Homo sapiens: one gene and its partner. The protein of the gene in region 1 interacts with the protein of each later gene in a pairwise test. Each region holds a gene or a part of one and is shown in the gene's direction. Other genes may lie near its edges.

Region 1 (3,820 bases):
TTTTCTTATTTGGGCTTAAAACCCCACCCTATGATACTGAAGTTAGGAAAAAGGAAAGAGACTCAGCCACCTGCCTGCAGATGCTCTCTGACTGATTCTTGGATGAACCTGCCTCTTATCTCTTCTAGTCCGATTCATAGTCCTGTCCAACAACTACCTGCAGATCCGGGGCATCAAGAAAACAGATGAGGGCACTTATCGCTGTGAGGGCAGAATCCTGGCACGGGGGGAGATCAACTTCAAGGACATTCAGGTCATTGTGAATGGTGAGGAGAGTCCGTTCTTCCTGATCTCTGCATTGCTACAACCTTGGTTCTCCAAAATCATTCTCTTTAACTTCCTCTTGGGTCTGTAAATTAAATCCTGTCCTGACTCAATCATCCGTCTGAGCTAAATCCCCTCCCCACCGTAACATCTAGATTTCTTTTTTTTTTTTTTTTTAATATACTTGCCTGTTGGATCTTCCTTCAACTACGAGGGATTTTAGTGCAGCAACTGAATGTCCTTCACCGTTCTGCAGCACTAAAAACTTTCCCCCTGCTTACCTATTAATCCTCATTGTCCTTGATGTTACCATAATTGTGAAGTTATTCCGCTGCTTAAATGTTCAAAGAAAGTATTAAGTCAACTCAGGCCTCAGAATAGTCAGAATCATGGTCCATAGGCTTGTTAATCTTAACTTGCAGTGTCAAATAAACACACCCATGGAATTGATCTGACATTTACAAGATGTTTACAGGAAATTATAATGTCAGTACTAAGAAAATAAGTAAATCAGGGTTGAATTGTTTTGACTATTGACACATATTTTTTTTGCCAAACTCTCCCCATCTCATTCCTTTGGTAAAAAACAGTTTTGTACAAGGTTGTTTATCACAGTCCCAGAGAAATGGCACTCTTTGTTATAGCTGATGCATTCGAATTGGTGTTAACCATTTAACCACTGGGAGCAGTAATGTCCAACTTTTTCCAGTACAAAGAGCTCCTTTTTAACATCAAGTTTCACTGAACCTGGTAGTTATTAAGTTTAGTATGCATTGACTGAGAAAATACATAATGAAGAATAGTGACTATAAATTGAATACCATCTTAACATGCATAAAATGTATTACTATAGCTTCTCAATTAATGAAAAACAAAAATGCATGTTTGTAGAACTGTCTATTCAGTTTGCAGAAGTTATTTAGTACATACATGAATTTCAATTCCTGACACTAACTCTGTAGCTGCACACGACGTTTGTCCCACAGGCTGAGAACTCCTGACCTGGAGTGGTGTCTCTTCTCCAGGCCATTGGGTTCTTCCAAATTTTCACAACCACCCCATGACACCCTTTTTTCCTTCAGTGCCACCTACCATCCAGGCCAGGCAGAATATTGTGAATGCCACCGCCAACCTCGGCCAGTCCGTCACCCTGGTGTGCGATGCCGAAGGCTTCCCAGAGCCCACCATGAGCTGGACAAAGTAAGAAACTGGCTCATACCTTTTATCATGGACTAGAGGAGAATGGGGCATCACAAAGTCTGCTCCATGTTAGTGTCTGCGTGGAATGGATGTGGGCTTCTTAGGAATATTAACCCCAGGAGAAGAATGGACTCTTTTCTATAAGATTCTCTTGCTTGTGCATTGATTATTCCTTCAATTTCAGCCTTGTGGGGGCAGAGTCAGAGCCAGAGGGTGTGGTCTTGGGAGCCCACTTTGAAACATTTGTGGGTACAGTTGCAGCCCTTGGATAGTCAGAGGATGGAATAGAGGAATAAGAGGTGTATGTGGACGTTCAACTTGGTGCCTTAACTTTTTGTGAAGACTGAGGAGTCTTTCCCATTGACTCAGTCTGCATTCTATGGAACCTAATTAAAAATAAACGTCTTATTTCTGTGGTCGAAATCATGCTACTTTGCATTTCTACATGCTCTAGGGATGGGGAACAGATAGAGCAAGAGGAAGACGATGAGAAGTACATCTTCAGCGACGATAGTTCCCAGCTGACCATCAAAAAGGTGGATAAGAACGACGAGGCTGAGTACATCTGCATTGCTGAGAACAAGGCTGGCGAGCAGGATGCGACCATCCACCTCAAAGTCTTTGGTAGGGGCAGTGGGGGCCCAGGTCACTGCTCTGCCACAATTCCCCTTCCTCTGCACATTCAGTCCATCAGTAAGACCCTGGCCACTGTCCCTCAGAACATAACCCAATGCAACCATTTCTTGCCAGTTCCACCACCTAGTCCAAGCCCTAGTCCAAGCCACCATCATCCTCACCTGAGCAGTGGGACGGTCTCATAGCTGGCCTCCCCGACTCTCCCTATTGGTCCACTTCATTCACTTCTGCTCACAGTAGTCAGAATGACCTAAGTACCACTCATCTGTTTGAAAGCCTCCAGTGGCTCCCTATGGCAACCAGAATAAAATTCAGACTCCCTGCAATGGCCTACAAGACCAGAGATGAACTAGCTCCTGCCTTCTTCTCCAGCCTCATCTTTCTTTCGCTTTGCTGCACATGCAAAGTTCTCCAACCACACAGGCCTTCTTCATGTCCCTCAGACATACCAAGCTTGTTCTTCATCTCAGGATCACTGCCCTAGGTTTCTCTTCTGCTTGGAATATCTTTCCCTCTGATCCACTCTGAGCTGCCTTCTTCTGATCCACCATTCAGATCTTAACTCAAACTCACCTTCTCAGCGGCGCCTTCCTTCACTGCCCTGGCTAATTCAACTCCCTCTGCACTGCGACCACCCCCACCCACCTCCACTCATCTCTCTCTCGTGACTCTTACTGTATCTTCTTTGCTGTACTTAACAGTACCTGAACAGATGTCATTTGCATATTTGTTTTGGGGATTGTCTGTCTCCTACCTCTACTAGTGTGTAAACTTCAAGATAGCATAACCCTGGCTGTCATACACGGCGTTATCCCTGTGACTCCAAACAGTGCCAGACTTGGCATAGGCCCTTGGTAACTTTAGTGGTCGATGGGCTGGCTGCTTTGCCTTGTTTGCCTCCTTCCCTGACCTGTGCAAAACAGTGTCATGGAAGAGCCCCCACATCCCTGCTCACTTCATCTTCATAAACTCAGGAAACTTCCATTCATTTCAGAACTGAAAAGCATTTTGACCTGATCTTGAAAAAAGAATTGGTTGCAGAGAAACGTTTAACCTAATGGCCCTCAAGTCTCTCCGCGTGTCTGTTTAGAAAACACAGATAAACTGGTCTACTGTAGACAGCACTGGGGAAGTGCCAGTCTGAGGCGCAGCTCTGGTGCATGGAGCCCCCAGGTCATTAAAATGTGCACCTGGGAATCAGGGTTGGGACCTGCTTATCCAGCCTGATAAGGAGAACTGTTCATAAACACAGACCTTTGAAAATCAAGACTTTATATGCAAATGTCCTGCTAGTTATTCAGTAGTAAACAGCTGGGTTTAGAAACAGGCTATCAGTTAGGTTCAAGTTAACCGTACGTATTTGAGAGAGAAAGCTAAACTTCATGAAAAATATTCTTGAAAGTCTTTTCTTGAATTCAGACTGATCTTCCCCAATCACTATGGTTTTAGTAAGTTTTTCCATATTGTAGAAAAAGATAGATGCATTTGTTAATTAATCCCTTCATTTAATAAATACGTATGGATCACCATTGTTGCTGGACAGAGGGGCTACAGAGATGAATAGGATATGATCCCTTGACCCTGGGAAGCACAAAGAGGGAGATAAATGGATAAACATAAATGTTATAATAGTGTCAGTCAGCAACATTTGAGTGACTGCTGTGGACTCAGTCATTGCCAAGTTTACAAGATGAATAACATGGACTCTGTTCTCATCAGT
Region 2 (3,820 bases), on another chromosome or scaffold:
TTATACTTTTTGTTTTATAGTTTTGAAGTGATTAAAGTTATCCATGGCAAATTGTTGGATATGGTGGGGAAAGTACAGTAAGTAGTACCATTTTATCTGCTTGTTAGAGAAACTTCTTTTAATAGTATCTTCTGAGCAATACAATCTGGCACTTACTGGTTTGTCTTTTTTTTCTTACAAATAGAATACCTATTATGTTGGTTGGGAATAAGAAAGACCTGCATATGGAAAGGTATGTAGCTTTTATAAAGTCAAATCTAAGATGATTTAGTCACTGAAGTATCATTTTAATTATTGTTCTGATGTCAAGAATATTTTTAGCTGTAGCATTTTTATCCGTTCAGAGGTGTTATGGTCGTGTGCAGCAGAAGCAAAAGTGGAATAGAAATCTCACATTCCTCTAGAAAAGAGAGAGCAAACTTTATAGGAAACTACCTTTAGGTTATCTGCCACTTTGCATAAAGCAAATTCTAAAAAGACATAGTGCTCATTTATGCAGCAAGTGGTTTTTGAGTACCAGGGTTTGGGATTACAGTGAGGAGCAAAGGAGGCAGATGTCCCCTGCCCAGGCAGCTTCATGTCAGAGAGGAAGAGACTCTACAGCCTGCATGCAAGAGAATTGAGCTTTCAGGCTCTTTCACAATTTCCCCTGGCCTTGGGTGCTTACAACCTAGCTGTAAAATAGTCAATTGTTACAGATACGGGAGTACTGGAAAATAAGATCATGTTCTCTGAGCTGGAAGGTTTGCTGGAGCATGGATAATCCCATAAAGCAATGTCTATTCTGTTCCCCAGCTCAGGCGTAATTAAAACACTCCTGTGTTACATTCTTGATGCTAATGTTAGGCCAGGGCATGGTTCTGCTTCATGAGAAAGAAATTGACCAAAATGGAGCCTGTTTCATAAATCAATTATACATGTTTTATATAATGAAGAGCAAAGTACTTTAACTAGAATTTTATTTTTTCTTTAGGGTGATCAGTTATGAAGAAGGGAAAGCTTTGGCAGAATCTTGGAATGCAGCTTTTTTGGAATCTTCTGCTAAAGAAAATCAGGTAACAGATTCTATAAACCTCATTTTGCATTGCGTTCTCATCAGTCGCAGGGATGTGTTCCTTGCAGTTGGCATTTGACCTCTGTCTTGATCACTCCTGTGTAACATCTGGCCTTCCTCCATTTCTAATACCAAGTTTTGTGTTGCTTTAGGAAGATACTACTTAGGTGTTTATAAATTCAGTCAGTATTCTACTTACAGTGGAACCTAGGATATTTGTAGGATAAACAGAAACTATTAGTAAAGGAAATACTACCTTTTGTAAACATATATTTTTGGTTTGTATTAATAGCTGGTACAGAAATAAGTCCATACAGGGGAAAAAAAAAGAATTATATCACTTTAGTACTAATTTTGTAACTACCCACCCCCTGGCTTTTTTTCTGTTAGATGAAACCGGGTCAGACGTACGTGTTAATTGTTAACATAGAAATGATGAAGAACCATCTTATAAGCATTTAGTACCAATTTCACCCCGCAGATGTGCCTTCAAAGGCATGTTCTGGGAAGGATGTAGATTCTGCCTCCGGAGGCTTCACAGTCCTGTATGAGCCCTTCTCTTCCATTGCTCTAATTTAGACCCCCGGCACCAAGCTTGTCTCCCGCCCCCAGTGCATTTTTCACCTATACATTTTTTTTGCTGCCCTTAATTTTCTAAAGATACACATCTGATGGTATCATCCTCTACTCAGAAACTGTCAGTGAACTGCCCCTTCTCTATAGAACCCTTCGCCTGGTCCTGAATGCAGTCAATAATTTGTTCTTTTCTAGTTTCTTCTCTCACCACGTTCTTGTACTTTCCATCACATCAAACTGCTCCCTTCCTTAAACACACCATCTCCTGTCCACCCCACTTTCAAAATGTCTCACCTTTCCTCATGCTCCCCTCCGGTTTAAAATAGCCCTTCTCTAAGTATCTACTTAGGTTCATGTGGGGTTTTATATTTTGAATGTGTTTTCAACATGTGGTGGTGTTTGATCCTCAGGTAAGATGACTTGGTTTTCATTTCTCTGAGGAAACTCTAGTATAGTAGGGTGGTGCCTCCTCCCTGGGAGGGCCGGGCGCCAGCAGCCTTGGCACTCTTCCTTCCCTGCCCCGCCCCTCTCCGCAGCACGGAGGTTTGTAGTCCTCAAGGCCCCACCTAGATTTCACCTTCTTGTTGACCCCCTCTGGATCCATCCAGCTGAAAGAAATTGTGGTTTCTTCTCTTAGCCCTCTTAATTTGTTCTGAGATCTGAGTCAGTATCATTTATATAAATATCCTTCATAATGTTTAGCACAGTGGGTTATCCGTCAGCCCAAGTATCCTGTGATAGTCAAATTGGCTTTGTCCTGTGTTGGGATATGGAGGGATAGTGAATCCATGTGGTTATGTCCTCTTATGTGCGGATGAAAAAAACTGATTAAACAGATGTGTGTAATTCGTTCCCAAGTTCCAGATAGCAAGGGATTTATCGAAGTCAGCTCAGTTTCTGAGTATACACAGAATTCAAATAAGAATTGAGATAGTTAAGAGATACCTATATTTTAAAAATTGAATTAAATCCATTGAGTGCCTATGGACTGTATCCTTCAGATCATGTAGTTAAACCGCCTCATTTTAGAAGTGAGGAAATTAAGTTTCAGAGAAGTTAAATGACTTTTCTAAGATCACCCACTACCTTACGTGGTATAAGAACTAGGACTGAATTGTAGATCTCATCCACATCTAGTCCTTTTTTCTCTACACACTGCTTCCTGTCAATCAGGTGATCTGAAGCCGGTGACCTAGATTAGACAAGCGGGGTGGGACCTGGGGTTGGCTTCAGTTAACTAGGAGGACAGACGCCTCATTCATACCAACAGGACAGAAGGCTGAGGATGGGAGCCCACATTCAAGTGGGTGGGTCAGCTTGGTGGATGGAGGATGTGGAGTTCTTTCATGAATGTGGCTTCTGTTTTCCAGTGAAGTGTGTAAAACAAGGTTTTCAGCTGAGCGTAAGCACGGGGAACATTTGAGGAGAAGGGACAAGGCGTGGATGCTTTCTCTGGGGAGTGCCCAGATCCAGGGATGCAGGCGGGTGGCTAGGCAGCACCAAGTGTCTGCGCCAGGTTCCTGGTCATGGGTGTGAGGTCAGCAGTGAGCGGTGTGTGTTTTCCCTGGGCAGCGTTTACGGTGTGGCCGCGGGCACCGTGCCAGCGACAGTTGGTAGGGAAGGGAGTTGAAGTACAGTGGCGCCATGGTGGCCTGCTGAGTCTGAGCTGACCGAGAGGGAAAGGAGCAGCAAGAAGTGGTTAAGGGACAGGGGAGATGTAATAATAGGGTCAACAAATCAGGCCCCTTGTGGGGCTGAGAATTGTTGCTTCAGGATAGCTAGAGAAAGAGCTGGGAAGGTGGTGTGGTGGGACGCTGGCAGTTGGTGTGTTCTGGTTTCGTGGGATAGTGGAAGTCACTGGAGTGATGGGGGAGGGGGATTCTTGGTGATTAGGAGAACAGGGTACTTCCTGTGGGGCTTCTGAGAACAGGGGCAGTTTTTCATGACCACAGGACTGCATTTCAAGGACAGGGTCTGGGAGTCACGGTGGCTCAGGCCTGTTGTCCTGGTGCATAAGGAGGCGAGGCTAGGCTTTCGAGGCCAGCCTGGGCAACATAGAAACCTCCAATCTGTATAACAAAAAAGGAAAAATAAAGGACAGGGTCTGACAGTTCTCCTCCCCACTCAGTGTAGGAAGAGTTCCTGCTCCAAGTGGCCATGATTCCTGTCTGTGGTGAAGGACTGGTGGGG

Evidence for each region.
Region 2: the proteins of NCAM1 (region 1) and RHEB interact in a two-hybrid assay, tested with the Homo sapiens proteins (one large-scale study listed by BioGRID and IntAct).

What each region holds. Positions count from the first base shown.
Region 1 is NC_000011.10:113,205,915-113,209,734, forward strand, and holds part of NCAM1 (neural cell adhesion molecule 1 isoform 2 precursor), read left to right. Parts: intron 1-128; coding exon 129-266; intron 267-1,346; coding exon 1,347-1,464; intron 1,465-1,918; coding exon 1,919-2,088; intron 2,089-3,820.
Region 2 is NC_000007.14:151,467,806-151,471,625, reverse strand, and holds part of RHEB (GTP-binding protein Rheb), read left to right. Parts: intron 1-20; coding exon 21-77; intron 78-184; coding exon 185-232; intron 233-973; coding exon 974-1,055; intron 1,056-3,820. UniProt on the Homo sapiens protein: Small GTPase that acts as an allosteric activator of the canonical mTORC1 complex, an evolutionarily conserved central nutrient sensor that stimulates anabolic reactions and macromolecule biosynthesis to promote cellular biomass generation and growth.